Linked DNA regions of Homo sapiens: region 2 is linked to region 1. Evidence: fine-mapped expression QTL. A gene starts in region 1. The other region holds a variant in brackets. All regions are shown on one strand. Distances are from middle to middle. Region 1 holds the start of USP47 (ubiquitin specific peptidase 47). Region 2 overlaps USP47 (ubiquitin specific peptidase 47).

Region 1 (15,991 bases):
ATTTGCAGAGACCTACTGTTTTTGTAAATATAGTCATGTGCCATATAAAGACATTTTGGTCAACAATCACAAAGATGACAGTGGTCCCATAAGATTACAAATACCATATTTTTACTGTACCTTCTGTATGTTTGAACACACAAAGACTTATGATGTATTACAACTGCCTACAGTATTCAGTACAGTAACATGCTGTAGCCTAGGAGCAACAGGCAATGCCATATAGCCTAGGTGTGTAGCAGGCTAAACCATCTAGGTTTGTGCAAGCACACTGTATCATGTTCAAATGATGTCTAATGATACATTTCTCAGAATAGGTCCTCATCATTAAGTGACAAGTGACTATAGTTCTGCAGAGCTATTTAACTCTTATAAATATATGCATGTATTAAACATAACTTTGATAAAAATTAAATTTAAAAAATCAACTGAATCCATATTATCAAGGACTTTCCTACTGGTTAAAGCTACCTTGATTTAGAATCAAATAGCTATGTAACTTTGAGCAAGTTACTTAGCATCTTTAAGCCTAGTTTCTTCATGTGTAAAATGGATAATGAAGAATAATAGCTAATACTGTCATACTGTCAAATGAGATAATGTAAGTGAACTGGTTAGCATAGTGTCTAGCACATACTGTTTACAAATAGTACCTATCATTCAAATTGCAATCAGAGGGTAATAATTATAAACTTTAAAACAGGTAAATCTTAATCTCATCTGTTTTAGAAAGTAACCCTGGCAGTTGTGGGGAGGATGGTTAAGAAAGGAAAGGCCTTGGAAGCAGACTGACCAATTAGAAAGGCTACACATTGGAGAAAATAACAATAATTAGACAAAGGCAGAGCCATGGAGAGAAAGATAAGGATACAGAGACATTTTCTAAGTGGTGAACTATATGTGAGAAAAAGGAAAAGAGAGGAGTCAAAAACTGTTCTAACTTAAGCATATAAATAGATGGCGATAACACTAACTGAAACAGGAGAACACCAAGAATTGGGTTGTGAGAAGGGAAGGAGAAATAAGTTCGATATTACCTATATTTAATTTGTGGGTCCTAGAGTACAACCAAGTACAGATATCCAGAACAGTGGAAATCTGAATCTAGAAGGGGTCAGGGCTGGAGATATAAATGTGTAAATCACAATCAAAGGTTGAAGCTATACAAGTGGATCCGATTACTCAAGACAAATATACAGAGTAAGAGGAGAGGGGAAATAGGAAAACTGTGAGCACAAAAAAAAAAAACACTATGTAAATACCCCCAAAACTACAATCAGATCATCTCAATTTCTGTTTTTGAAAATAATGTACATGCTCATTTTTAAATATGAAAGTCTAAATATATATCCCAATAATCCAGAAATTCAGAAATAGCAACTCTTAATATTTTAGTGTATTCCTTCTAATCTTTCAACGCATTTAACCCTAAATTGTTCATTTTTTCCTGGACAAAATTAGAATCATATACAATTCTGCATTCAGCTTTTGCTTTCATTCATTAAATGAGCATTTCCAATGATATCTAAAATACTGACTTTTATTAAACACTCCAATTTGTTTAAAACGCTGGCGGGTATAACTTGACAAACTTGTCTCTTACTGGTAAGAGAGAGTCAACATCTGAAATTTAAGAAAAAGCCTCATTTTAAAAGAATCACTAAAATCAAGAATGACAATTGCAGCACATTTCCTCAGGTAATTTAATTAGGAGAAATAAAATTAAAAGAATATGCATTTGACATGTTCCATAATAGATACTGATGAATGGATTTTATAAGAAGTCAGACAATAGAAATAAAAATAAGTTGTTTTTGCTATCAATGTGTCTTATGTACTCTGAGGTTGCTGTGAAGCTCAAATGAGTTAATACAAAGCACAACCAACAGTATCTGGTATATAAATAAATGCTCAATAAATACTGGTTATTACTATCATCATCATCATTAGATGCCAAAACCAGTTCCAGACAGAAGTAGTGATTGCATGAAAGACAGGAGAAAAAAACCCAGAGATAAAGAATTTACATTTCTACTCTTTTTCCTTCATTTTTTCCATTTTCTCTGGATTTAGAGTCCATGAGCACTACTTTAAGTACTGCAGTTTAAGTATTATTTTTAAAGCATCAGTAAATATGCACCTTATCCTTGATCATTCTATAAGACACTTGAGAGAAGAACAAATTTTTCTATTCTAAGTTTTTCCTATTTGGCAGAATACAGTAATATGCACAGTGAGTACTCAATGAATATTAATGACACACATCCTTATAAGAAAACAGAATAACAAAATAGCAACCAAACAATAATTAAAATTGGGATGCTATTAAAAGAGACCTCAAAGCAGAAATCAATATACTACAATTCAAAGACATACGGCAGAATGAAACGGGTGAAAAGCTCTGTTCTTCACCACAATGAAGAGATACCACTCTCTTTGCTCTTTCTGGGTACAACAATTTAGGAGGAATACTAAAAACCCCAGATTATGTCCAAAAGAGAGGAACTAAGAAACAGTTAAAGAACTGAGGAAGCTCAGACTCAGAACAGAAAAGGTCAGTTCTCAGGCTACCCTCTCCCATCTTCAATGATGAGAAAAACTATCCTATGGGAAATGCTTTAACATTTCTGTAAGGCAACTATCAAAAGATGGCAGCTATAGAGATCTAGACTTCTCTCAACTCAAAAACTTAAAAATAACAGATCTCTTCTAAGACAAAGATTTTATCAAAGATTAGTCATAGAAGTATGTATTAAAGCAAAAGTTGGCAAATAGCTTGCCAATGATGCTGTGGAAAACCTCCAAGGACAGGATAATTGGTTAGAATGCTAAATTTACTTACAACTCTGTCACCACATCAACGAATATTTACTGAATATCTGCTCCAGGAAAGACACTGTCTTAAACCTATAGTACAAAACCTACAAAAACAAAAAGCAAAGACAGAGAAACATACCAAGTCTTTGCTGTCAAGGAATTCACAACAAATAATATATAAAATGTAGATTACAGTTTCAGATCATAATAGATGTCGCCAAGCACCATCTAGTAATTGCCAAATGAATTCTATTCCTATATAAAGGTCTTCTAAGAGGGAGAAATCTCTAAGGTTAAAATGGTCAGAAAAGGCTATTTAGCATAAATGAGATATGAGGTACTTATGGAAAAATGTGTATGAAGGTTTTGAACAGGAAGGAGGGGGCAGCACAAACAGAAGTGAAATGCAAGTTAGAGAGAAACCTGTTTGACTACATTAAAAACCTGTTTCATGGGAGAAGAGATAAGCTGGAAGGACAGGTTGTGGCCAGAATCAATGGTACTGGGCCTTGAATACCAAGCTAAGTAATTTCAAATTTATCCTGCATAGAGTCTCTGTAGCAACTACTCATCTCTGCTGTTGTAGCCATACAAAATACTAAATAAATGGCATAGCTGTTTCAAGACTAAAATTTGAATTACACATTATTTTCATGTGTCACAGACTATTATAATTCTTTTGACTTTTTTTCTTCAACAATTCGAAAATGTAAAACTCATTCTTAACTCACAGGCCATACAAAACCAGGCTGTGAACTGATCTGGACCACAGGCCGTGGTTTGCCAATGCCTGTACTACACTAAGCTGTCTTCTTCAAGAGTCCTCTAAAGGTACATTTGTCCTTGAGTTTCAGGGACCAAAATATATTATTCACTGAACAACTATACACTCCAACACACGCACGCACACATGCCCACATCTAACCAAGATCTAAATCTAGCAGGGGTCAGAGGTTCCCTATACAAAGGCCCTCAAAAAAAAAAAATCTTTAGATTATTGATAATAAGCCATTAAAATAAATGCATGAAATTTTTTAATTTGCCATTTATTTTCACATATATATGTACTTAGAGAGTTACAAACTATTCTTACAGAGCCTCTAAATTACATGTAGGGCTCTGTAAAATAGGGTATAATCAAGGGAATAGTAGCAAAGGAAGTGAGTTCTAGCACTAGGTCTGCCATTTACTCATTATTTGACCCTGAACAAGTCACTTTCAATCTTCTGGGCCTAACTCCCTTAACTGTAAAGTGGAGGGGTAACTTAGATGATGATTATGCTTTCTCTTAGCTCTAGCACTGTATGATTCTACTACTGTTTAAAAGGACCTGTCCCGGAGCTTCAAGGATCACACAAAAGTGCCAATTAAGAATACAAAAAAGAAGAGAAAGGCCTTGACTAAATGAGTGGGCAGATAGGACAAACAGGTGGGAAAATGACCAGAAAAGTGGAGTATCACTAAAATCAAGAAATTGTTTTTTTAAAAAAACTATCAGATCCTGCAGAGAATTCGAACAGCAGAAGAGGCAAGAAAAAAAAAGTCAAAGAATTTGGTCATTTAAGAGATAACTGGTGATTTTCAGAAAAAGTTTCCAGTAATCCAGAAGCAAATATGGAACTGGAGGCAATCACTTTAATAAAGAATGAGTGTGGCCATCAAAGAAGAAAAAGCTAGTTGGCTAGCTATAAAAGGTAAGAACCACAGATCATGCTTCCAGGAATCATGAAAGGAACCAGGGAAAAAGAAGACTGAAGATGAGACTAAGGAATAGACAATAAAGGCATATGGTCCATAAAAAGAAGAAAGGGAAAAAACATAAGTTGTGATGAATTTAAAGCCTCAGGGAAGGGAATTAATCTTAAAAGGACAGGCATTTAATCTTTAAACTTCCGTTGCTGTTATCACTTTTTACACAACAGATGTTTCTGCAAAGCTCGGTATCTATTATCATATCATGTTTTCTATAAATCAAGTTATTAGGGAAATAAATCTAATGTTGGGTTTTCTTAAAGCAGAGTTCCACCTATATGATATTTTTCTAATGGTCAAAAAATTAAGAAAGAATTTTGTTTTTTATAAAAATGAAAACCAGCAATATGAAGCTCTAAAATGAAATACACATTTATACCTTTCTTACAGCACCTATCACTTCCTTCCTTGCATAAGAATTACTTACGTGGTAAAGTACCTAGTCCCTAATTGGAGTTCAACAAACACTAGTGTTCCCTTTCTTAGTAGCTCAGAAAGTTCCCAAGGCAAGAATTCTGATTAACTCATCTGTTTATCTGCTTTGCACAGAGTTGGTGACGCTTGATGAACAAATACTGACACATAACTCTCTGCCTTTTACAAAAATCGTCCTTGCAAAACAACTATCACTGCCCTTCTGACAAAGCTGGGAAAATACTTGTATCATACAGGTACATAACTCCAATAATATCACCCTTGCATACTGTCAGAGCTTGCTTAAGTAACAAAGAATTGCTACAAAACAAGTAAAACAGGCACAAAAAAATTTAAGAATCTGTAATGATCACTCATTAATTTCAAGATCGCACACAGTTAATTTCAATCCAACACTTGTCTCTATTTAAGGTATATGAGAAATAAAAATCCAAAGCATTAGCCTGATGATCAGCCAGTTAAAAATACACATTTGAATACGCCGAAGATATTTATAAAGCCAACAGAGATACTATTAATACGTTGAAATTCGCTGGCCAGTGCTGGATTCTACCCTAAATCTTCTACTACTATTCAAGAGAAGCCAAGTAGTCAAGGCTTCTCGTATCACTTGCTTTTAAGAATTTAAGAAGTCACTCAAATTGGCATACACAACCCAACCTCAAAAAAAAAAAAAAAAAAAAAGAGTTCAGCTCTCCATGTGGTAATGTTCTCCTATCTCCTTCCTTTACATTAATGTCCCATGTACTACTTTTCCACGATCTTCGGTAGGCCCCATTTAGGCAGGCCAATAGTACTACCAAGTAACAGGAGTTGAAAAAAGTCGTAACAGTTAAGTCTGCCCTCCCACAGATCTCACTTGGGTGTAGATTTCACAAGCGCTGAAAGCTATACGCTGCCACTGTCAAACCCAGAAGCAGCACCGTCACCCTGCCGTGCCCATAGGCAACTGTTCCAGAATGTTTTCTTTGAAATGATCTCTCCCGGCTCCACACGTTAAACAAGAACTTAAAAGGCCACCTTCTCCCCTAGAGCAGAACCTGATTCTTTCCCGTCCGCTCCTTTATTCGTCCAGCCCCATAAAACCCGAGGCGGGAGGTCCGCTCCCCGGCCCCTAGAGCCAGCGGGTCTCCCAACTGCTCGCCGCACCCACCGTCCACCCCCGACTGCCTCACGCCTCCTCATTCCCCCACAGCCGAGCCTGCACCCCGGCCGGGCCCGCAGCCGAACCCCGGCCCGGGCCTGTGTTGCCTCGAGCGGCCGCAGGCCTAAGGCCTAACCTCCTCTGGGGCCCCTCACCTCTTTCGGGACCAGTTGGTTCTCCTCGCCGGGCACCATCGCTGACTCCGGCCGCTCCTCTCCGCCCTGCCGGGGGAGGGTGGAGGGTGGCGGCGGCTCGCTAGCTCAAGAGAGAATGGCAGCGGCAGTCATCCTCTCCGCCGCCTGCGCTCCAGCAATAGCGGAGGCCTCAGCCTGGGCCTCAGACACCAGCGCGCAGACACCGACCCAGGGCTCCGCCGCCGCCGCCGCCGCTACCACAGCCGCCTTCGTCGTCGGCCCCTCCCCCAGCCCGCTGCAATCAATGGAAAAATGGCGGCGGCCGCTCTCGCGAGAATTCGGCCCGTCGGGCTCCAAGCCCGGCGCCTGGCGTCGGAGGTGGCCGGCACTTGTCGCTAGCTTCTAGTCACCTCGGCTCTTCCTCAGCCCCGGGAGGTACAGAATTGGCGAGACAGCCATGCAAACGCTTTTCGTTAGAGGAGAGCTGGACGTTCCATCTCGGGACTCCCTCTGCCGGCCGGGGAAGGACCAGGCCCACTGTCCTCCCTGCCTTCTCGGGCTCTTCGGACTCTCTGCCCTGCAGGGAAAGACTCGAGCCGAAAGCCCCATCTCTGACCCTAGCAACTCATACCCTTCTGGCTTCCCTTTAGCAAAGCGCCTGGACGTCATCCCCTCTTCAGATACCCCAGGCCTCGTCCTGGTAGAGACACCACCGCGGGCCACCTCCCGGCCCCCGCCCTTAGACACGGCTCTGGCCCTTCCAGTCAGAATGGACAGCGTTTTATTTGCTCCCGTTCACTCTCCTGACGTTCTTTTCCCCTCTCCCCACCCTCCCTCTCAAGGGCCCCCAGCTGGAGGGACCTCAGGGGCCACCCCCTGCTTGGGGAGGCAGCCACCCCTTCCCTTATGAAGCGGTGTCCTCACCGCCCGCCCCCCGCAACTACATTGGAGAGGCGCTCCCCTGCCCTCTTCCAGGGAACTTCCTTCTCCATCAGGGCCAAGTCTGAGACTGAGCTAGCCTTCCAAGAGTAGAGCTGCAGTATGCTTCAACCTGTGATCTCCGTTAACAAGGTTTTTAGAGAATTTTAATCTTCTCTAGTAGTAAGCATGGTGCTTTGTGTTATACTAAACAAAGTTTGCAGAAGTCATTTCTCCAAATCCTGCTTCCATTATGGAGACTCGGCGGGGCTCCTTCATGAAGACTTTTATGGATACAGTGATCTTACAGCATGCTGAGATAATATAATCTTGTCATGTTCCTAACACCCACAGCATTAACTGCCTGCACTTGTGTTCTCCAAACTTTTTTTTATTGTAATCCCGTTACCAAAAAAAAATCCATATACTTATATAAGTTTTATACGTGTCCTGCTGTGTGCAGAATTATAAAACATTTGTAAAATGTAAAAAGGCTAAGACAAAGATGACATAAACATTTAAAATAACTTAGTTATTTTCCATATTAATGGTATAAAAATCTTTGTTATTCTCACTAAAAATATTTAAGGAAATCAATATGATTGACTAGGTTTCGTTAGTTTTAAAAATCTTTAATACTTCGTGAAATAGTTATTAAAATATCTGATTGAACGTCAGGTTATTTTTGTACTTGGTTTTAATGGCTGTCATAAGCTGAAAAAAAGGTAACTCACAAAGATGTAGATCCTAAAGGAGGAAGTACATCTTTGGCCACTCTTCCTAATGCATGTTTAGAACGATTTAAAAAAAAAAACTGATATGAAAAAAGTTTCATTTTTATCCATTCCATCCAACAACCATGCAAAGGTTTTTATTGAAATTCAGCTAGTAGTGTTCCATCTTTCCTGATGTCAACCAGAAGATGTTGCATTTTTATATTTTTACAAATGGGTTCAAAGCTCTTTGGAATAAATTGCTTAGAAGATTTTTAAGAAGTTGAAAATTTCTATCTTCAAGTTTTAAGTATTCATGTATGAGTTTTGGGAGTTATAGATCTTGTCTTTAAGGTTTTGATATTTTGATTATCATGGATTGATTAAGATAAATTTTGACTTTTTAAAATATTGTATTAAGATTAGTTGTCTTGATTATTGAATTTTTGGCACCCCCCCCTTAAATTTTGTGCCCAAGGTGAACGGTTTTCACCTTGAAAACCATTTGCTTCACCATAGTCCCAGACTTGGGTGGCTCACATATATCATTTTTGCATCAAAATCACATGATGGAAATATTTCCAAACTTTTATTTTCAAAATGTCATCCCATGACTTAGTAAGGTGTCTTCTGTAGTGCTGGCCAGTGCTGTAGTGCTCACCCTAGAAGTAAAAATGTCATCTCTGTCATCTTTTTTGCTTATGCTTGCAATATTATTTCAAACTCATGTTGTCTTTCCAGAAATCCTTTTTAGTCACTTTCATTTTAGTAAAGGTTGATATAATGAAATAAGAATGTAATTGATAAATCTACTTAACCCAGCCCACATAAACTGGAATAAGTGACAACATACTAAAAGAAAATGAAGGAATCTCTGAATTCTCTACATTGCAGAACTCACACTTCTCACTCAGGAGTAGTGAGATGCTGGTGTTTATATATTCAATATAAGTAAGATTTAATTTTGCGTTTTTAGATTAAAATAAATATAAAAAGAAAGTCTAACATTTTCTTCCTACAATCCCCCTTTTCTGATTGCACACTCTTTTCTTTATAGGCCACTGGCTTGACTATTGCAGGAGAGCCTGATAAGATGGTAAGTATACAATGAATATTTGTGGAATAAGTATGTGGATTCATGAATTGATTAATGAATAAATGGACAAATACAAATATATGGCTACTCTTCCTAATATATTATTACTGAGATTACATGGATATGTGTTTATTTACTTTATATGTAAATGTTACGTCCCTTGTCCTCACCTCTCCTATAGGCTGTAAACTCATATATCTACCTTTTTAATGGCTCAATACCTCCCAAATTTAAACTTGACCTGAACAGAACATTTGATTTCCAAGCCTCCCCTACCTCCTGCAACATATCCTCTATCAGTTCTTCTCCACCTTGATAAATTACACTGTCATCAATTCAGTTTATCAAACCAAAAACCTGACACTCTTCATCTTACATTCAATCCCTTCATATGGGCTGTTGCTTCCACCTCTGAAACACATCTCAAATCCATCCACTTTTCCTTCTATCTACTACTGCACATCCCACTCCAATTACTTTATTCTTTTGCCTGTACTACTGCAGTTACCTCCTAACTGGGTTCCTGTTTCTAATCTTATCCCTCAACAATCCATATTCCATAGAGCAACCAGAGTGATCTTTCAAAAATATGTCATATCCCTTCCAAATCTTCCAAAGACATCTCATCCCTCTTAGAATAAAATTCATATTCTTTGCTATAGCCTGTGAGATCCAATGTAATCAAACCCATCTGTCTTGCTCCAGTCATCTGCCACTCTTCCTCTTACGCCCAATGACCCAGCCACTTTGCCTTTATTGAGCTTTTTAAACACATAAAGTTTGTCTCTGCCCCAAAGCCTTTGTAGTAGTTATTTCCTTTCCCTGAAATATTCTTCCCGTAGATCTTTTCTCTTATCTAGTTCAATCTTGTCATTTGGGCTTCTCAAATGTTAAATCTTCGAAAAGGCCTTTTATGATAATCCAATCTAAACTGGTTGTCCATAATGCATCCTCAATGTCTAGAACAATGCCTAGCACATAGTAGGTCATTAATAAATTGGTGTTGAATTAAAAACAAAAACCAAATGCCAAGACTGGTGTAGGTCAGAGGCTGATGATTTTTCTTATAATTTCTTTGGGAATATTTTCCTTTTCCTTTTCAAATGAAAATGTTCATAGTATAACCCCAGTCAAAGTATGAAAAAAAATCACACAAACCCAGTTTGGAGGACATTCTACAGGATGCCTGGTCAGTATTCCTCAAGACTGTTAAGGTCATGAAAAACAATGAAAAACTGAGACACTGTCATAGACCAGAGGAAACTGAGGAAATATGACAAGTAAATGCAATGTGGCACTCTGAATTGGATCCTGAAACAGGAAGAAGCCGTTAACAAAAAAAAATGGTAAAACTCAAATAAAATGTGTATTTGGTTAATATTTATGTACTAATATTCATTTCTTAGTTTTTAAAATGTTTTTAAAAAATTTAATACACTTTATTATTATTATTATTATTATTATTGAGATGGAGTTTTGCTCTTGTTGCCCAGGCTGGAGTGCAGTGGTGTGATCTTGGCTCACTGCAACCTCTGCCTCCTGGGTTGAAGCGATTCTCCTGCCTCAGCCTCCTGAGTAGCTGGGATTACGGGTGCATACCACCACGCCCAGCAGATTTTTGTTTTTAGTAAAGACAGGGTTTCACCATGTTGGCCAGGCTGGTCTCGAACTCCTGACCTCAGGTGATCCACCCGCTCGACCTCCCAAAGTGCTGGGATTACAGGCATAAGCCACCGTGCCCAGCCTTTGTTTTTATTATTCACAGCAAAGACTATATTTAAATAGTAAATGAGAAGAAATTGTAATTAAACTTTATTTTTTAGAGCAATTTTAGGTTTACAGCAAAATTGAGCTGAAAGCACAGAGAGTTCTCATACACCCACTGTCCCTACACACACACCCTCTCCACTATTGACAGCTGCCACCACAGTGGTACATTTGTTACAACTGATGAACCTACATTGATATATCATTATCATCCAAAGTCCATAGTTTACATTAGGGTTCGTTCTTGGTGTTGTACATTCCATGTGTTTTGATAAATATATAATGATATATATCCACCATTGCAGTATAATACAGAATAGTTTCACCGCCCTCAAAATCTGCTGTGTTCTGCCTATTAATCCCTCTGTCTCTCCTAACTCCTGGCATTCACTGATCTTTTTACTGTCTTCATAGGTTTACCTTTTCCAGAGTGTTGGAATCATGGTATGTGGGCTTTTCAAATTGGCTATTTCTTCTAGTAATATGCATTTAAGTTTCCTCCATGTTTTTTCATGGCTTGATAGTTCATTTCCTTTTAGCACTGAATAATATTCGATCATCTGGATGTACCACAGTTCATTTATCCATTCACCTACTGAAAGACATCTTAGTTGCTTCCAAGTTTTGGCAATTACCAATAAAGTAAATACAACCATCTATATGCACATTTTTGTGTATGTGTAAATTTTCAATTCATTTTGGTAAGTACCAAAGAGCATGACTGATAGATTGCACAATAAGGGTATTTTTAGTTTTGTAAAAAAAACAAAAACAAAAAAACTGCATGTTTTACATAGTTTTTTTACATAGTTTGTTTACATTGTTTTTTACATAGTTTTGTAAAAAAAAAAACAAAACTGCATAGTTTTACAAAACTAAACATTCCAAAGTGGTTGTGCCATTTTTCATTCCCACCATCCATGAATGAGAGTTCCCGTTACTCCATCACATCTTTGCCAGTATTTGACATCATCAGAGTTTTGATTTTGACCATTCTAATACATGTATAGTGGTATCTCTCCTTGTTTTAATTTGCAATTCCCTAATGACATATGGTGTTGAACATCTTTTCATATACTTATCTTCTTTGGTAAGGTGTCTGTTCGGGTCTTTTGCCCATTTTTTTAATTGGGTTGTTCATTTTCTTATTATTGACTTTTAATAGTTCTTGGTATATTTTGGATAACAGTTCTTTATCAGATGTGTCATTTGTAAACATTTTCTCCCTATCGGTGCCTCGTCTTCTCATTCTCTTGACATTGTCTGTCACACAGCAGAAATTTTTAATTTTAACAAAGCCCAGCTTATCAATTACTTATTTCATGGATCATGTCTGTGGTGGTGTATCTGAAAAGTTATCACCAAACGCAAAGTCATCTAGGTTTTCTCCTTTGTTATCATCTAGGAGTGTTATAGTTTTAAAGTTTACATTTAGGTCTATGATCCATTTTGAGTTCATTTTTGTGAACAGTATAAGGTCCGTGGCTAGATTTGTTTCTTTGCATGTGAACATAAAATTGTTCCAGCACCATTTGTTGAAAAGACTTTTTTCTCCATTATATTGCCTTTGCTCCTTTGTCAAAGATTAGTTGCCTATATTTACGTGGGTCTATTTCTGGGCTCTCTATTATGTTCCATTAATCTGTTTGTCTATTCTTTCACCAATGCCACACTGTCTTGACTACTGTAGCTTTAAAGTAAGTCTGGAAGTCAGCCCTTTGACTTTGTTCTTCTTCAATATTGAGTTGGCTATTCTGGGTCTTTTGCCTCCCTATATAAACTTCAGAATCAGTTTGTCAATATCCTCAAAATAACTTGCCAGAATTGTGATTGAGATTGCACTGAATCTGTAGATCAAGTTGAGAAAAACTGACATCTTGACAATTTTGAGTCTTCCTATCCATGAACATGGAATATCTCTTCCTTTATTTAGTTCTTTGATAGCTTTCATTAGAGTTTTGTCACTTTCCATATATATATATATATATATATATATATATATATATATATATATATCATCCATATTTGGTTAGATTTATATGTAAGTATGATTTTGGGGGGTTCTAATGTAAATGGTAATGTGTTTTATATTTCAAATTCCACTTGTTCATTGCTGATAGTTTCTTAGTTTTTATAAGTGTAATGTGGTAATGCAAGATATAAGCAGTGGGGGAAAGTGGAGGAGGTATATACAGACTCTTTGTCCTATCTTTGTAACTTCCTTGAAAGCATAAAATTATTCCAAAATAAAAGGTATATTTTTAAATGTTCATGGCAATACTTAAGATTTTATTTTCTTTCTTTTATATTTCAAGACTCTTCACTGCACAAGTCTAAGCATGTAGTCAAAGTCACATTATACAATTTAAGAACCAGTGAAAATAGAAGGTTAAATGTGTATTATAAAAATGAAAGGAAAATTTCACCATGACTATGTTTTAATAAGGTTAAGGAGAAAATCTTTAGTCAGTGTAATGTGGCTTTGGAGCCAGATTTACCTGTTTTGAAATCCAAACTCTGCCACTTCCTCCATATAAGACCTGTCTGAACCTCCATTTTCTCAACTATAAAATGGGGGCAATAAAGTAGACCCTTGGCATTTATCAGTTTAACATTTGCCATGTTGACTGGAAAAGTCCATGACATGTAGCGTAATTGTGATAGAAAGGAAATTTGAACTTTATACGTTAGCCAGAGTACAGAAGACCAAAGAGCTAAGTGGTTGAAAGAGTAAGCTGAAAATACATTATTTGAATTTGAATCCTACCTCTATTATTATTAACTGTGTGACATGCCTTGGGTAGATCTCTTAAATCCACCAAGCTTCAGTTTTCTTATCTGTAAAATGGGGATGATAACAGCCTCTCTTCACAAGGTTGTTATAGTAACTAGTAAAGAAAGTAATAATAATCACAAAACTACAGCAGTTAAGATTGGTTGAGGCCGGGTGCGGTGGCTCACGCCTGTAATCCTAGCACTTTAGGGGGCCAAGGCAGGTGGATCACCTGAGGTCAGGAGTTCAAGACCAGCCTGGCCAACATTGTGAAACCCCATCTCTACTAAAAAAAAAAAAAAATTAGCCGGACATGGTTACGGGCGCCTATGATACCAGCTACTCAGGAGGCTGAAATAGGAAAATCATTTGAACCTGGGGCGGGGCTGAGTGAGCTGCAGTGTGCTGAGACTGCACCATTGCACTCCAGCCTGGGCAAAAGAGTGAAACTCTCAAAAAAAAAAGAGATTGGTTGAATAGACAGGCATAGTGGCTAACGCCTGTAATCCCAGCACTTTGGGAAGCTGCCGCAAGAGGATCACTTGAGCCCAGGAGTTCAAGACAAGCCTAGGCCACATCGGGAGACCCCATCTCTACAAAAAAATAAAAAATTAGCCGGGTGTGGTGCACCCCTGTAGTCTCAGCTACACAGGAAGCTGAAGTGGGAGGATCCCTTGAGCCTGGGAGGTCGAGGCTGAAGTGAGCCGAGATCACACAACTGGACTCCAGCCTGGGTGACGAGAGAGACCCTGTCTCAAAAAAAAAAAAAAAAATTGGTTGAATATATAGATTGAGCCCTGCTCTAGATCCTTTGCTTTTTTTTTTTTTTTTGTCTGCGACAGTCTCCTTTTGGCCAGGCTGTAGTGCAGTGGCACAATCTCGGCTCACTGCAACCTCCGCCTCCCAGGTTCAAGCGATTCTCCTGCCTCAGCCTCCTGAGTAGCTGGGATTACAGGCACGCGCCACCATGTCCGGCTAATTTTTGTATTTTTAGTAGAGACAGGGTTTTACCATGTTGATCAGGCTGGTCTCGAGCTCCTGATCTCGTGATCCGCCTGCCTTGGTCTCCCAAAGTGCTGGGATTACAGGTGTGAACCACTGCGCCCAGCCCCTTTGCACATATTTTTTATTCAGTTCTCTCAACAACTTTATGCATAAGTACTTCTAATATCCCCATCTTACAAGTGAGGAAATGCATATAAACTGTTTAAAGCACTCAACATACACTACCTGACAAATACTAAGCAATCAATATATGCTGGCTATAATTATCCTAGCAATAGACTGAGTTTCATGAGGGAATGCACAACCCTCACAGTACCTGGCATATAGTAGGTGCTTTTAAATTCATGTTGAATAAATAAACTAGTCACTTAGCTAGTGAGTAAGTCTTGTTAATCATACGGCAACTACACTTTGACGTAGTCTCATTTCTGCCTACTCTTCTCCACTTATGTAGTTCTTCCATGAATTTTCTTTGTGGAAAATGGCTCTGAAAAGAAACTCAATTATTAGTAATGAGATTGAAGAAATTATTAAAGTGATGGATCTTAGCCACAAAATAGGCCTTCTGTCTAAGTTAAAGAGTGGGATGTAAAATTAGTCAATGGCTTATATTTATGATGGAAAAGACACCATCAATAAGGAAACAAGAAAAAGTAATTTGGGAAACTATTTAAATGAGTGCATCCACTAAGGAAAAAAAGCTCATCAATTAAGTTAAAAACCACTGAATATTGAAAAGATGACTAACTTTTGGTGTGAAGATGAGAATAGAAAAAATGATGCTCAGGAAAATGTAATCTGGGAGAAACCTAGGAACATTTGTATAAATATTTTCATGAGGTAAGCGAGTGAGGACATTTGTGGGGCTCTTAACCCACTGTGACCTCAAAAAAAAGATTGGTTCTGTGACCTAAAGTAGCATTTTTCTATTGACATTTTATAAAGATAAAAATCATTGCCACAGAAGTGCTTGCTTGCCTCTTTCTAAGCTGAAGAAATTCATAAAGAAAAGGTTAATAGGTCAGTGCATTCAACAGTATTAAAAAGAGGCTCACATCAACAGAAAATACCTTGGTAAACATATTGAAGGAGGAGAGGCAAATATCAGCGCCTAAGGCAACCAAAGATAAATTGACCACAATTCACTCAACTTTCTTTGCGGTCTGCAAGTGCCTAAATTTTAAGGTGCAAGAATAGGAAGGAATCTAGCAAAATAAAGTTGGAGTCACAGTGTTAAACTTTCTGAAATGATTTCATAATGTCTTTGAAGTAGAGTAATATTTATAAATTTGTCATTTGAAGAGATCTCAATATTCCTTGAGAATGTGAAGACTGAGTTGTAATAATTACTTGATAGCATTGTGAGAATTAGAAATAATGTATACAAAGGTGAATATTTTATAATAATATTGATTTGAAACAAAATAAAAGCCAGAA
Region 2 (15,991 bases), 76 kb before region 1:
TTAAAAGGACAATAAAAGAATACTTTGTACAACTCTATGCCCCCAAGTTTGATAACACAGATAAAACAGACCAACTTCTTAAAAATCACAAACCACCAGAACTCACAAAGGAGAAACAGGTAACCTGAAAAGTCCTATATCTATTATAGAAATTAAATCAATAATTAACCACTTTCTAAAAAAGAAAGCACCAGGCCCAGATAATTTCTCTGGTGAATTCTACCAAATATTTAAGAAACAATACCAAGTTTCCACAATCTCTTCCAAAAATAAAGGCAGAGGGAACATTCCCTAACTTATTACATGAGCCCAACATCACCAAAAGCAGATAAAGACACTATGAGAAAGGAAAACTACAGATCAATGCATCTCATGAACACAGATGCAAAAATCCTCTGCAAAATATTAGCAAATCAAATCAACAAAGTATAAAAAGAAACACACACCATGACAAAGCAGGATTCATTCCAGGTATGCAAAGACAGCTTAACATTTGAAAATCAATCTATGTAATTCAGGCTGAAGAAGAAAATTACATACATGATCATATCAACTGACATAGAAAAAAAAATCTGGAAAAATCCAATACCTATTCATGATAAAAGTTTTCAACAAAGTAGGAAAAGAACATAAAAAACTGAAAGTCAACATCACACTCAATGATAAGAAACTGAAAGCTTTCCTCTGAAGATTGGAAACAAGGTAAGGAAGTTCTCCCTCACCACTCTATTCAACACTGCATTGGAAGTCCCACAGAGTGCAGTGAGACAAGAAAAAGGCATGCAGATGGGAAAGGAAGAATACTGTCTTTATTTGCAGATGAAATGAAAGTGTATGTAAAAACACAGGCAAGGGCCCAGATTTGGCTCTTGAGCCATAGTTTGCCAACTCCTGCTAGAATGCCATGTTTCTATACTCAGTTACAATGTACTTATTACATTATTCATTACATAGCAATCCCTGCTCAACTGTCTGCCCTGAATGAAACAGATAATTTTAAAAAGTAAAGGGTGGTGGTGATAATTAGAAGAATGGCCTTGGTCTAAAAACAGATTTATGAAAGTAAAACTCTATTTTTAAATATTGCCTTAAAAATCCCTATATTTAATGACTCTGTAATACCTGAGTTAGTGATCAGTCTTCACATTAGGAGTTTATTATTCACACCATGCTCAAGACGTTTTATCTATAATCTTTCCCTCAATAAAACAGAATATATGTGGAAAAAAATGGTCTAAAAAACCCTTAAAGTTATTGACACAGGGGCAAGATCCTATCCCAGAGATTATCCAATTCTGTGGTTTTCAAATGATAATCCATAGAACTATACCATTTTTCAAAGTGTCTTGAGGACTATCGCAGGACAGGGAAGAAAGACTAGGGGGCTTTGGCATTTCCCTACTCAGAAAGATCAGATCTATTATTAATTGTCTCATAAAGTGTTTCATGGCCAGACTTTTAAAAATCAATGACTAATCCAACATTTTACTTTTCTATATAGGAAAACTCAGACAAAATTTATAGACACTTGCTGCAACCTTAAAGGCAGAGGTGGTAATAGAATCTTGGTTTCTTGACTACTAGGCATCGTTTCTGTACCATCCAGCTTGCTTAGACAGTTTAAAGTATGGTCTCCCAAAAATTAATGTTCTTACCTGTAAGCAGTTTTTCCTGAAGTTTAATTATAGTCATATATATATATATATATATATATATATATATATATATATATATGTACAAAAAAACTATATTTGAGAAGTCTTAACTTTCAAAAATTAAGTTTCTTTTAAAGATAACTTTATCAGTCACAACAGCTATAGAATTATATAGGAAGTCAGAGATTATTCTCACTTTCAACTAAAAAATGCAAACTATAAAAGGTACCTTTTCAAGTCCAGATTTTGAGATCTTTTCAGTTCCACTATTGGTTTCAAGACAGATTCCTTCATCAACACCATCATCATTGGAGAAATCGTTGCTCATCTGATCACTGTGACAACTACCTTCATTTTCTGCTCCACTGTCAGTGCAACTTTCAGTCTGAGGAGATTTCTTAATAAGACATAATTATCTTAGTTATAAACCATATACAGAGAAAATATGTTCAACAAAACTTTGTACCTATATACTGCTAATATTTTCACACAATTTAACATATTAGTAAAAATATTTTACTTTGAGTACATTTATTTTCTCTTAAAAATTGAGACCTTAAGTAAAATTAAACAAGCAACAGTGTATTTTAAAAGCATTTCTATCATGTCCTTAAAATTCTAATACAACAAATTAGTGATTCAGAATTCTATTAAACCTCATTTATGTTTACTGTTACAACATAATGGTTGAAATTATCATTTCTTTTAGCAAAATCCACAAAATCAGAGAAGCTGAGCTCCAAAATGAGCTTCTGGTGTTCTCAAATCAGGAAAGAATATAATTTCTTTTCTTGAACAAAAAGTCCAACTCGGTTTATCAGTGCGTTAGGTATTACAGATAATTAGAAAGAGAAACAAGACATTGTATTCATCCTTAAGAACTTGATAGTCTTTTTACAGGAAGTAGAAATATAATGGTTACAGCACATTATACTTTTCTACTTTATGGTTTTAAACCACATTCACACAAATTTAATTTGAAGAATTCTCTTTGTTAGAAACCCCCAAACAATCCTTTCCCCCTTTAACGTTTTATATACATCTCTAAAAATGTTTTTATTTAAATAATTTGAGAATTTTCTAAGATGCAGGCTTTTGAAATGTATAAGGCATTGCATAGAAGTTCTTGAGTGAAACCAAGCAATATACAATAAGCACAAACTTTTTGCCAGGAACTCTTGTTGTAGGTACTACATCTAATATACAGTCTTCATCTCTCAAGAAGGTTAGGTTCAAGGATAAATGGAGATGAAATCCAGCTATAGATCTAAGTCCAAAGAGATATAATTCCTGAAACTTCTTCAGCTGAGCCAAAACATTTCTTGTCCCAAGAACTAAACCTAGAATTCTCTAGGAAGTTTCTACTAAGCTTCATATATAAGTTTTCCTTCTTTGGAAAAAATTTTCCTTTATGAGAAATATATTAGGCATATTCAGAAGACCAATCTACTACTGATCTCTATTTGAGTAGAAATCCTACAAAGATTATGTCTCCTCTCAAAGTCTGGCACACTTTGGGTAGATTTCCTAGCTTAAGCGCAACTGTCTGAGACATTATTTTAAATTAAACTTTTCAAAATGTTATTGATCATAGTTACCATTCAATGAACAGCTACTTCATCTATGGCATCTGGAAATGAGGCTCAAAAGGTTTTATGAATTATCCAAGGTCAAGAGGCTAGCAAGTAGCAGGACAAGAATTTGAATCCACATCTAGCTATGCCTAAAACATGTGCTCTTCTACACCAAACTGCCTCATAGTACTCAATAGTACTAAATAAAACTTAGTGAATGTTTAAAATTATTTTTGAACTCCTGGGAAAAGGCATTTTTTATAACTATAGTAATCAGTTCCAGTAAAACAAAACAAAACAAAACAAAAAAAAAACGCTTCAGGGTAATTCTGAGAATAAATCACTTTGAAATAATTAGCCTAAGTGATTATAAGTATTCCACATAATAAAATCAGAAGAGTTTCCAAAATAATAGAGTGGAATATTGTAAGTCTTTCATTGAATAAGGATAGAAGAACCAGAGAATTTTGGCAGGCCAAAGTGTGGGAAGAAATTGATAAGCATTACATCATGTGTCACTTCAAATCCCATGCTTAAATTATTTAAATAAAGTTTCAAATTAAAAAAACTAAAAAAGGAAAACAGACAAATAGTAAATACAAAATAGTAGGTAAGTACAAGAAATTAAGCCCATGCTATTCAGTTGGTTCATTCATTCCATCATAGGCATTGTCTGCATTTATTATAGATCAGAAACATGAGTATGGCTTACCTTCAGGCTGGTTTCAATAACGACGAAATTATAAAATATAAGATTATCACTCAACTTCAAGAAATAATTCCAAAGCTGAGTTCCTTATTGTCTTTTCAAAGAGTATCATAAGTTACTCTGATCAAACAAGAATATTTAAAATATAATTTATGCAGTCAGGAAAAGCTTATACAAAGGTAAATCATTTTATTGAATTCCACATTAGAAAATAAGAAAGAAAAAGTTTCCATCAAGAAGACAGTCCAAATGACATCAGTGTTATTACCTCAAACAGCTCTTTCAAAACCATGACTGACTAATGTGGATTAATGAAAAATACTTTAAAATAACAAATATTTACCTCATCTTCAACATCAATAAAAGTACTCATATCTAGTTCCTCGGGAAATGTCATTCGATCATTCAGTTTAATCCTATGCATGGTTGTATAATCAAAATCGAATCTTTTCAGCTGTAAGGTCAGCAGATAAGGAAAATGCAAAAACCGAAGGCCCTAAAAAACAAACAACAAAAAGGGGGAGAGTCTATTGAATATGGAATATTATCTCAGATTCCTAAGTATTAATCTCTACATGGCATTTACCTTCCGTGCATCACACTTCTTCTTACAACGTTCACAAAAATACTGATTTGGGCCATCCAGAATCTCTGGCTGAATAAATGCATGCAATGCTTCTTCCTAGTTAGAAAAAAATTTGTTTTATAATTACTTAAAATATTATATTAATGACAAAATCCTGAATAAAAAAGACTGTAATTACTAAAAGTTATAAGTAGAATGGTTAGAAATTTAGGAACTCAAAATGTACCAAGGAAAATTATCAACAGTAAAATAATATTATCACTATAAAAATTAAGCAAAAAAAATTATTTCATTCTACACAAGATTTGCCTTTCTTAGTATTGCAGTATCACAGTCATTTCAACCTGATTTTCATTGACTTTACATTGCAGTGTTTGGCTAAATAATCTCTAAAAATATCCTCAGTCCTTAGATAAAAAGTAATTCCACACTTCTAAGAAAAGCAGTTGCATGCATCAATCTTCTTATAAAAGGAAGCATTTAAAACTGTACAGTAAATATCAATGTTCTCTAAAGAATTCACACTTTTCATACACTTAAAAATCATGTAAGCATCCTTAATCGCCATAGTTAGGATCAGTCAGTAATCTGCCACTGCACTAGTTATAAAGATTGAAAAACACTGTGCAACCTTCTGTGTGTGTGTGAGATACTGTTCCATTTGGAAATGTATAATGAGGATCCTGGATTGTTAATTTGGTAGAACCACGTGGTTCTCTTTTCTCCATACAGCATTACAACAGAAGTAAGAAACTTCATATAAATACTGTTAAAGAATCAGTGGCATAAAGTTAATTTTTATTTTAGTAATTGGTTTTTCACGATTAAAAAATTAGTTAATATAGCATATAAGATTGGACGCATAATCTCAAATTTCATCTGATGTTCTCTCTTTTCTTCACACATGGGCTAAGCAGAACTACTGATAATATTACACATAAACTAAAAGAAATGGAATCATTAAGACAGTATCTTCAAATATTTTTCTTTTGATATAGGACAAGCTGTTCCTCAAAAGATAAAGGAGCTTAATGGTCGTAGTTGCAAAATATCTGGCAAAGCTTAGAAAACTACTGTCCACATATTGTTTGATAGAGCTCACTTTGGAACAAGATAAAAATAAGAAAAGACATAGATATTCAAAGGTGTCTAAACCCATCTGATCCCCTATTTTGTTCTCAGAACACAAGGAAACAAGTGAAGAAACCAAACGGCTGGGTTTTTTTCCACATGACCATGCATTTTATTGGTGGTCAAATGACACATTTAGAAAAAAATTTTTTTTCCCTCTCAGGCATATTTTTGGGGGAAAAAGGAAAGTTCTATAAAAAACAACAGAAAAACAAGCTTTAAAGAAATTACATCTATAGCTTAACACAGACTGATACTAAATGTCAGGCTTTCCAAATAGTGGTAATTTAAACTGGTAAAAACTCAATATTCAAAAAAGGATGGGGGGAGAGGGAGAGTGAGATAATTATGTAACTCAAATTCTACTTTGGTGTGTGTGTATTGGTCTCCGGCTTATAGTTAATACCTAGAGATCTTTAAAAAAAATTAAAACTTGGAGAAAAGTTTAAAGAACAGAGAACTCTCAAATACTTTACTCATATTCATCAACTTTTAAACATTTTTGCCAATTTTGCTTTCCCTCGCCCAACCCAACATTATTATGTATCTTTGTTTTAGCCATTTGAGAGTAGGTTCACACCTCATCATGCTTTGCCTCTTAACTTCAATATGACTTTTTAAGAATAAAGATATTCTTACACAAACAGTAATCAAACTCTGGAAAATTTAATACTGATAAAGTACTTTCATCAGCCATATTCCAATTCTGTCAATTACCTTAACAATGTATTTCTCTCCATCTAGTACACAATCTGTCTCAAGGCCACAGATTTTGTTTGGTCTCTTGAGATTCCTTTAATCTCGAGGCATTCCAGAGTTTGCCTTTCTTTCATAACACTGATATTTTTTGAAGAACAGAGGCCACTTATTTTATAAAATGTTCTGCAATTTGGGTTTGTCTGATGTTCTTCATTATTAGATTTATACATTCCTTGCTAGGCTACTATGACATTAGCAAAGATGTGCCCTTCTAAGGGTAGCATAGTCACAGGCCATGATGTACCTAACTTTCTCTTTGGTGATATTAGCTTTAATTATCTGGTCAAGGTATTGTCCAGTCTCTCTACCATATAGTTATTATTTTTACTCTCGCGGCTAATAAGCAATCTGTAAGGAGATACTTGGAGACCATGCAAAAATCCTGAGCCTTACCAAATCTTCCACCCTTGATTTTAACATCCACTTACAGATTCCTGCCTAAATCAAATTTTAATGTTTGCTTTCTGAACCAACTTGAAAATCTTTTTAATAGGCAATTTAAGCCCACTCATATTTGATATGACTGGTATGCTTGGTCCTATCTCAGTCACTACTGTGTAATTACTGTGTGTGTTAGGTAATATTTATTGTGTTCCTTTGTTATTTTTTACATTTTCTTTTGGTATTTAGCAAGGTTTGTAATTTTATTCTACAGTTACTTTTGCATTTATAGTTTTGTTAGTGTCCTTGGACCTCTTTTTTTCCCACCCACCCCCACCCTGTTTACTCTTTCTTAAGCTTTCAGTGTCTGCCAGTTTTAAATGGTCTCCTTTATTCCCCACCCACACAACAGTCTGTGATCTTATTCTGCTCTCCCTTTCTCTCCCCCTTCTAAAAAGTGGTATTATTTGTACTTTGTCTAACATGTAACATTACATACTACTCTGCTGTTCCCGTGTTCCCACCCTTGTATTTAGGCCTTAATTTAATATAGTAAGTGCTCACAGTTCTTTTGCCGAAGCTGCCCGTGATCTCTTGGTTGGGTTAAGCTCATCCTCTAATGAACTCCTCAATGGCTCATGGATATAATACCCAATGAGTTCCTGAATATTCAAACTTGTCTTTTTATAGCTGTCATAATTAAGAAACACTTGCCTGGCTATCAAATCCTTGGCTGGTACTTTCTTGAATTTCTGGAAATTGCTACTCTGTTGGCAGGATTTGCATGTTGTTCTTCTGAAATATGATGCCAACCCAATTCATCTTTTTTTTCAGATGAGGTCTTGCTCTGTCATCCAGGCTGGAATGCAGTGGTGTGCTGGCTCACTGCAGCTTTGAAATCCCTGGCTCAA[G/T]CAATTCTCTTACCTCAGCCTCCTGAATAGTTAGGACCACAGGCACATTCCACCACAACTGATAACTGATTTTTTATTTTTTTGTAGAGACATGGTCTCAATATGTTGCCCAAACTGGTCTCAAACTCCTGGGTTCAAGGGATCCTCCTGCCTCAGCCTCTCAAAATGCTGGAATTACAGGCATGAGCCACTGTGACTGGCCTCAATTCATCTTTAATAGTTTACTAAAATACATCTCAGAGTTTATCATTCCAGGTCCTTCAAAAGGTAGACTTGACATTTCCCTTATTCCCAGAAACTTTCTCTGAATTACAGTTTATCTATTAGTTCTGGTCCACTGTTTTATTTTTCTTCTTCACAGACTCCAATTATGTTGGACACCCTTTGCTGGTCTTCTCTTTCAATTTTTTTTTTCTGAGATCCTTTTTACTTTTACAAAAATCTCATTTCCATTCAATGTCCTTCATTAGATCTTCTTTCTATTTTCTCTTGAGCATTTTTTAATTTATTCTTCACTTCTAAGATATTTTTGTCTTTTTCTTCTGTTTCTTTCCTGAATTTGATGAATTCCCACTTCATTTCTTACAGCATTGTTTTTGTTTTTTAAATCTATTTCTTTGCTTAAGTTTTTGGATACCAGGTTTTGTTCTGCTCATTTGAGAATATTTAATTCAGTCAGAGTACCATGTTGATAATTCCAGAGTGACAACAGTTTCATATTCTAGATCTTACTGCTCCCCATATATTATGCAAAATGTAATTCTGCACATCTTTTTATTTACTTATTTGAGACAGGATCTCACCACGTTGCCCAGGCTGGTCTCAAACTCCTAAGCTCAGGCAATCCTCTGCCTTGACCTCCCGAAGTGCTAGGATTACAGGCGTGAGCCACCATGCCCAGCCTGCACATCCTTTTACACTATAATTTTCAGAATTCAGGATAGAATATAAAGAATTCTTACATCCTTAGTTCTCCAATCAAAAACAATACGGGTTATTCCAATTTTAGAGCTAATGCAAATAATCCAGGCACAGTGCAATCAAAAGGTATATGCAAGGAATGGTATTGCCTATAAATCCTTTTTTTAACCATTTATGTGTACATATGAATTATTCATCAATTAAAATCTACTTAATTTTGAATAGAGAAATGAGTGTTAAAACACCATACTTCAATTTTTACATGAACAAAAAAAGAAAGTAGATCCACCACTGAGAATTATTTCCTGATTTTGATGTACTAAGCAATTTTGGTACTACTGATATACAGGAACATGATGTTTTCCTTAAAAATATATTCAACTGTCTTTCCCGAATATATACTTTAACATTACTACTTTTTAACTAGGAAAAGGCCTATATACTTTTACCTAAGCTGTCTACTTTTTTTTTCATTGAAACTTTTGAGATAATTGTAAATTCATATGCAATCGTAAGAAATAACATACAGAGACCTCTTGTACACTTCCCCCAGTTTACTGGAAACATTTTGCAAAACTATGGCATATCATAACCATGATATTGGCATTCATACACCTATCTAATTCAGATTTTCCCAGCTTTAGTGCACTCATTTGCCTGTGTATATGTGTCTATTAAGTTCCATACAATTCTATCACCTGTAGAGGTTCATATATTCAACACCCGTCAAAAGACTGAACAGTTCCTATGCAAGGATAACTTGTGCCACCCTCTTATAGCCACAACCACCTGCTTCTCCTCTCCCTGCTCCCACCAAATCCGTAAGACCTGGTAATGGTTAATCTGTCCCACAGTTCTAAAAGGTTGTCATATCAAAAGTATTACATAAATGGAATCATAAAGTATGTAATAACCTTTTGAGATTGGCTTTTTTCACTCGGAATAATTCCCTGGATATTCTTTCAAGTTTTTGTGTTTATTAATAGTTTGTTCCTTTTTATTGCTAAGTACTATTTCATGGTTTGTATGAACCACAGTTTGTTAAACCATTCACTTACTGAAGCAGATATGGGCTGATTCCAGTTTTGAATATTAAAAACAAAGATGGAATAAATATTTGTGCACAGGTTTTCATGTAAACATAAATTTCAATTTTTCTGGGATAAATGACCAATAGTTCAATTGCTAGAGTTTATGGTAACTGCACGTGTCATTTTATAAGAAACTACCCATAACATTTCACATTCCCACCAGCAGTGTATGTGTGATACAGTTTCTCCACATAGTCACCAGATTTCCATGCTGTCATTATTTGTAGCCATCTGGCAGGTAAAGAATAATATATTCATTATGGTTTGAATTTGCATTTCCCTAATAGCCAGCAATGTTGAGTATCTTTTCTGTATTTGACATTTGTATATCCTCTTTAATGAAATGTTATGTCTTTTGCCAATTGTCTAGATGAATTTTTCTAAACTGATGTCTTGAGAGTACTTTATATATTCTAGATATGAGTCCTTTGTCAGATAGACAGCTTGCAAATATGTCTGGAGATTCTCTTTATCATATGGGCTTTCAGAGAGTAAATATTTTTAATTTTAATGTTTGCTAATTGTCCCTTTTGTAGACTGTACTTTTGGTAGCAAATCTAAAAACTCTTTGCTTAGCCCAGATCTGGAAGACTTTCTCCTATGTTTTTTCTAAAAGTTACATAGTCTTACATTTTACATTTAAGTTTATGACCCATTTTGAGTTAATTTTTGTATAAAGTCATTTAAGTCAAGGTTCATTTTTGTGATATGGATGTCCAGTTGTTCCATCACCATTTGTTGGAAACACCATTTTTCCTCCATTGACTTGCTTTTGTGTCTCAGTCAATAATTAGGCATATTTGTGTGGATCTATTTCTGGGTTTTCTATTCTACTCCACGGATCTATTTGCCTACCCCTCTACCAATATCACATAGTCTTGATTACTATAGCCATATAATAAGTCTTTTTGGCTAAGTAGTATTCCATTCCAAATCATGTAGACTGGTAACTTCCACTTTATTTTTATTTTTGAAAACTCTTAGCTATTCTAGTTTCTTAGGCTTCCATATACATTTTGGAATAAGCTTGTATATGTCCTCAAAAAATCTTGCTGGACTTTGACAGGAACTGCATTAAGACTATGTAATTATCTTTACTATATTGAATCTTCCAATTAATAAGTACAGTATGTTTCTCCATTTATTCTTTTCAAAGTTTTTTTGACACATAATACTGTAAATATTTATGAAGTACATGTGATACTTGATACATGCATAGAATCAAGTCAAGCTATTTAGGATATCCATCACCTTGAACATTTACCATTTCTTTGTATTGGGAACATTTAAAATCTTCTATTCTAGCTATTTTGAAATACACAATATATTGTTAACTATAGTCACTCTAATCTGCTCTCAAACACTAGAACTTACTGATTCTATCTAACTGTATGTTTGTACCTATTAACCAACCTGTCTTTATCCCCGCCTCTCTCAAACACACTGTTCCCAGCCTCTGGTAACTACCATTCTACTCTCTACCTTCATGAGATCAGCTTTATTTTTAGTTCCCACATGTAAATGAGAACATGTAATATCTGTCTTTCTGGTCCTAGCTTATTTAACATAATCTTTTCAAAGTTTTGTAGTTTTGAACACATAGGTCCAGTACATTTTTTGTTGGATTTCCATCTTTTTTCTTTTTGCAAAATTATAAATGGTATTGTATTTTAAACTTCACTTTCTACATGTTCATTGTTAGTATCTTGAAATACAATTTATTTTTTATGTTATTTTTATCCTGCTACCTTGCTAAACTCACGTATTAGTTCAGGTGTTGTTTTTTTTTTTTTTTTTTTGTACAAGGGATTTTCTACATAGATAATCATATCACCTAAAAATACAGACAATTTTATTTCTTCCTTTAGTAGTGCTTTTCATTTCCTCTTCTTACCTTACTGTGTTGGCTAGGACTTCTAGGACTATGCTGAAAAGGAGTGGTAGGAGCAGACATCCTTGCCTAGACAAGCGTGCCATTCCCTAGGAAGAAAGCAGTCTCTCACAATGAAGTATGATGTTAGCTATAGATATTTTAGATACGTTTTTTAATCAAGTTGAGGAAATTTCCCTCTATTCCTAGTAATCTGAGTTATTATAAGTGAATTTTGAATTTTATTAAGCACCTTTTCTAAATCGATATGATCATATGAATTTTCTTTTTTGGCTCGTTAATATGGAAGATTATACTCATTGATTTTTAAAATACTGACCAGTCTTGAATCCCGGAAATCAATCCTAGTCACAATATATAATTCTTTTTATAAATTGCTTAATTCCATTTGCTAATATTTTGGAAAGAATTTTACCAACTACACATATAAGGGATACTGTTTTTTTTAAGAACTGTCTTGGTTTAATATCAGGTAAGAATAGTGTCACAGGACTATGGGTTTCCTCCTCTTCCTTTCTTTTTTTTTGAAAAGAAATTGTACAGACCTGGTGTTCACTGTTCTTCGAATGTTTGATACAAGTATCCAGTGAAACAATCAAGATTTGGAGATTTCCTTTCAAGAGGTTTTAAATTATAAATGTAATTACCTTAACAGTTACAGGACTATTCAAATTATCTAATTCCTATTGAGTTCTTTTCAAAGAATTGGTTCGTTTTATCTAAGTTGTCAAATTTATATGTGCAGAGTTGTTTGTTGTGATCCCTTTGATATCTGCAAGATCTATAGTTATATCCTTTTCATTCCTGATACTGGAAATTTTTGCCTTCCCTTTTTCTCTGTCAGTCTTGCTATTTGTCAATTTTATTGTCTTTTCAAAGAGCCAGCCCTTTGTTTTGTTGACTTCCTCTACTGTTTTCTCATGTTCAATGTTACTGATTTCTCGGCTTTTCTTTATTATGTCCTTCCTTCCGCTTGCTTTGGGTTTCTTTTGCTCTTCTTTTTTCAGGTTAGGTGGAAGCTTAGATTTCTGATTTGGCCCTTTTCCTGTCTTTTAGTATAAGCATTTAATACTGTGAGTTTCCCTCTCGGTATTGCTTTAGTTGTGCCTCAAAAAAATTCGTTATGTTTTACTTTTCATTAAGTTCAAAATATTTTTAAAATTTCCCTTGAGACTTCCTCTTTGACCCATGGATCATTTAGAAGTGTTATTTCCCAAGTGTTTTGTGATATTCCTGTCTGCTAATCTGATTCCACTGTTGTTGAAAAAAATCACACATTCCATGATTTTAAATTTTTTGAGGTCTTATGGTCCAGAGCATATGGTCTATCCTCGTATATATTTAATGGATACTTGAAAAGGATGTGTATTCTGCTGCTGTTGGGTGAAGCACTTTAGCAATGTTCATTAGATCTGTTGGTTGATGGTGTTGCTGAGTTCTACCTCTTTGCTATTTCTGTCTAGTTGTTCTACCTATCAGTAAGAGAGGGAGGCGTGCTGAAGTCTGCAACTGTAATTGTAGATTTGTCTTTTTCCTTTTAGTTATGACAGTTTTTCCTTCATGTATTTTGGCAGCTGTGTTATTTTCTGCATACACATTTAGGATTGTTGTCTTCTCGGTTGTTTGACACTTTTATTACAATGTAACAGCCCTCTCTGTCTGTGGTAATTTTCTTTGCTCTAAAGTCTTCTTTATCTGACACTAATATGGCCATTCCTGATTTATTTTGGCTTATTGTGTTTGGGGTTTGCTCAGCTACTCAGATCTGTAGGTTTATGCCTTTTGCTAAATTTGGAACATTTTCATCCATTATTTCTTTGTGCCTGCCTTCTTTTTCCTTATTAATCTCCTTTCAGGACTTTAATGACACAAGTGTTACACCTTTGCTCTCCTTCCAGTATTCCAATGACACAGTGCTAAACCTTTTGTTATAGTCCCATAAGTCCTTGAGGATATATATTTTTTTCAGTCTATCTTCTCTCTGCTGTTTAGACTGGGTAATATCTATCATTCTATCTTCAAGTTCACAGATTCGACCTACTGTCTCTTTCATTCAGCTGTTCAGCCTATCCACTGGGTTTTTAATTTTGCTTATTGCAGTTTTCAGTTCCAAATTTTCATTTCTTTGTATCTCTAACTGATTCCCTAAAATTTTCATTGTTTTCAGTGTGCTTAGGACTGCTCACTGAAGTGTTTCTATGATGGCTGCTTTAAAATATTTATCAAATAATTCTAACATCTTTGTCATTTCAGTGTTTATGTCTACTGGTTTTCTTTTTTAACTCAAACTGAGATTTGTGATTTTTTAATTGAAACCTGGACATTTGGGGTGTTATGAGATTCTGGACCATATTTAAACCTTCTAGTTTAAATGCCTCCTTTGACACTGTACCATCTGGGGAAAGGGCTCTGCCATATTAGTGCCAGATGGCATTAGAAGTCCAGGTTTCCCACTTGGCCTATGTGGACATCTGAATGGAGGAAGCTCCTTGTTAGTGCTGCGCAGGGAAAGGAATTCTGGGTATTCAGTAGGCCTCTGCTGATATAACCTTGGCTGTAAAGGGCAGGAGTATCTCAGTACTACACCCCAACACTGACACAAGCAGGAGGGGCTCGCCTCTTTACCCCTGGGAGGTGGTGAAGGAACAGAGAATCTAGGCTCCCCACTCAGCACTGGCAGGCACAAGTTGATGTAAGGCCTTTTCTTTCTGTGGTGTTTGGTTAGAGCACAGCAGTTATGGTCTAAAAGTTTTCTGGCTTGCTAGGCTGTCTTTTTCCTCGTCCTTCAGTTAAAGAGAACAGGGTTTTTCAGTCTGTACCCATTGCTGTTTCCAGGCTGCCAGCTTCTTCAGTTCCAAGCCTGGGATATATTAGGCAAAAAGAAAACCCATGGAACTCACCACCGTGTTATTCCTTGGGTGCTGAGGTCCCTAGTGTGTATGCCTTCTCTCCACCTTTCAGTCTTCTTATGTTTATTTTACATATAATGCTCAAGGTTTTCAGTTGTTTTAGTGGGAGGAATAGGGCAATGTACATCTACTCCATCTTCCTGAAAGCAGAAGTCCCCACTTTTTAAACTTGTTCCCACTATGTCCAACCATACACATTCCTGGAAAAATGAGGGTAGAGTCTGTGGAAGAGATTTTTCTTTAACTGATGCTTACATATTTGGACAAATTTGGACCACTGCTTCACCCAAATGAGTTCTGTGGCTGAGTCACCCATGTAAGAATGTCCAAACCACCTGTTATGTCAGGGTAAGACTTATAATATAAACTTGTGTAAATAGTTGAAATGCTTTTGATTTCACACTTACTAATTTCACAATTTTCCATTCAAAACTTTAAAACAATCATTAAACTATGTTTACTTAGGAAACAAGTCTTTTATATAATCTTATTTCTCCAAAGGCACTGTATGAAATTATGCAGCTAAACCCTGATCAAACTTTGAACACGTTTTTGTCATAATAAACAGGTATTTAAATGTACGTAATGAACAATAGAATAAAAGTATCCTAAAAGAAAATGGCCTAGAACAGTGTCTGCCATAGAGTAGGCCCTAAATAAATGTTGTATGACAAAATACACCAATAAAAAGACAGTGTCTAAAATTTTACTGTTAAATAAAAAAGCACTTCCTTAGATAATGTCAAACATGAGGCTACATTGTTTTTCTTTAATTTATAAATTATGCTTTCATAATTAACAAACAAAAAGTTAATATTTCTAATTTCTATGTATTACTAGAATATACTTAGAACTATCTCCTTATTTAATACATTCTCACATGGGGTTGGCAATAAGCATAGTCAAAGTTACTTTGATCTAGTCAGTGAACATAGAAGGTTCTAACTATCTAATAAGTCATTAAGAGCAAAATTATTTAAAGATTACTACAAGTAATTCTTCAGCTGATATTAATTTTTCAGGATTAATAAAAAATATGTAAAACAACAGGAAATTATAACACATATTTTAGTATTCTCACTCCCTCTCAACATCCCAAGGACACAAATATAAACAAAGTAGTGACATTCTTAAATCACCTTAATCTAATGTAGAGCTTCCCATATTATGTTCCTCAGAATCCTAATGTCTCTTGAGATATTAACAGATGTCCCACAGAGAAAGAAAATGCTAGGTTAAACACATTTAAACAAACTTCTCAACTACAGGAATCACTGGGGCATTTAAAATATAATATGCACTGTGATATTTCCAAAGAGGATTATTGTTATAGTTTCCCAAATCTATTTAATCAAGGACACCTTCCCCAAAATATCTACTAAATCCTTTTACAGACTAGTATTGAACAGAACTCAATCTGAGATATACAGAATGGCAGAAGAGCCTTTCAATATTGATTCCGTACTTGGATGA

The links. PIP is the estimated chance that this variant, and not a neighbour inherited with it, causes the effect.
Region 2: its variant is fine-mapped to the expression of USP47 in whole blood (INTERVAL, PIP 0.94).

What each region holds. Positions count from the first base shown.
Region 1 is chr11:11,832,537-11,848,527 of GRCh38, reverse strand. It overlaps USP47 (ubiquitin specific peptidase 47), which reads right to left and starts at 6,556. Exons shown (of 28, transcript NM_001282659.2): 1 at 6,304-6,556. The coding sequence starts at 6,342. It overlaps LOC107984311 (a long non-coding RNA gene), which reads left to right and starts at 6,687. Exons shown (of 4, transcript XR_001748134.3): 1 at 6,687-7,353; 2 at 8,971-9,009. RefSeq lists enhancers at 6,313-6,452, 5,751-6,614, 6,663-6,832, 6,615-7,480.
Region 2 is chr11:11,908,785-11,924,775 of GRCh38, reverse strand. USP47 (ubiquitin specific peptidase 47) reads right to left here. Exons shown (of 28, transcript NM_001282659.2): 9 at 4,525-4,620; 10 at 4,282-4,434; 11 at 1,885-2,052. Among named protein-coding and RNA genes, the nearest start is that of USP47, 75 kb to the right of the region's middle. The variant G/T (reference allele first, on the strand shown) is at 7,707.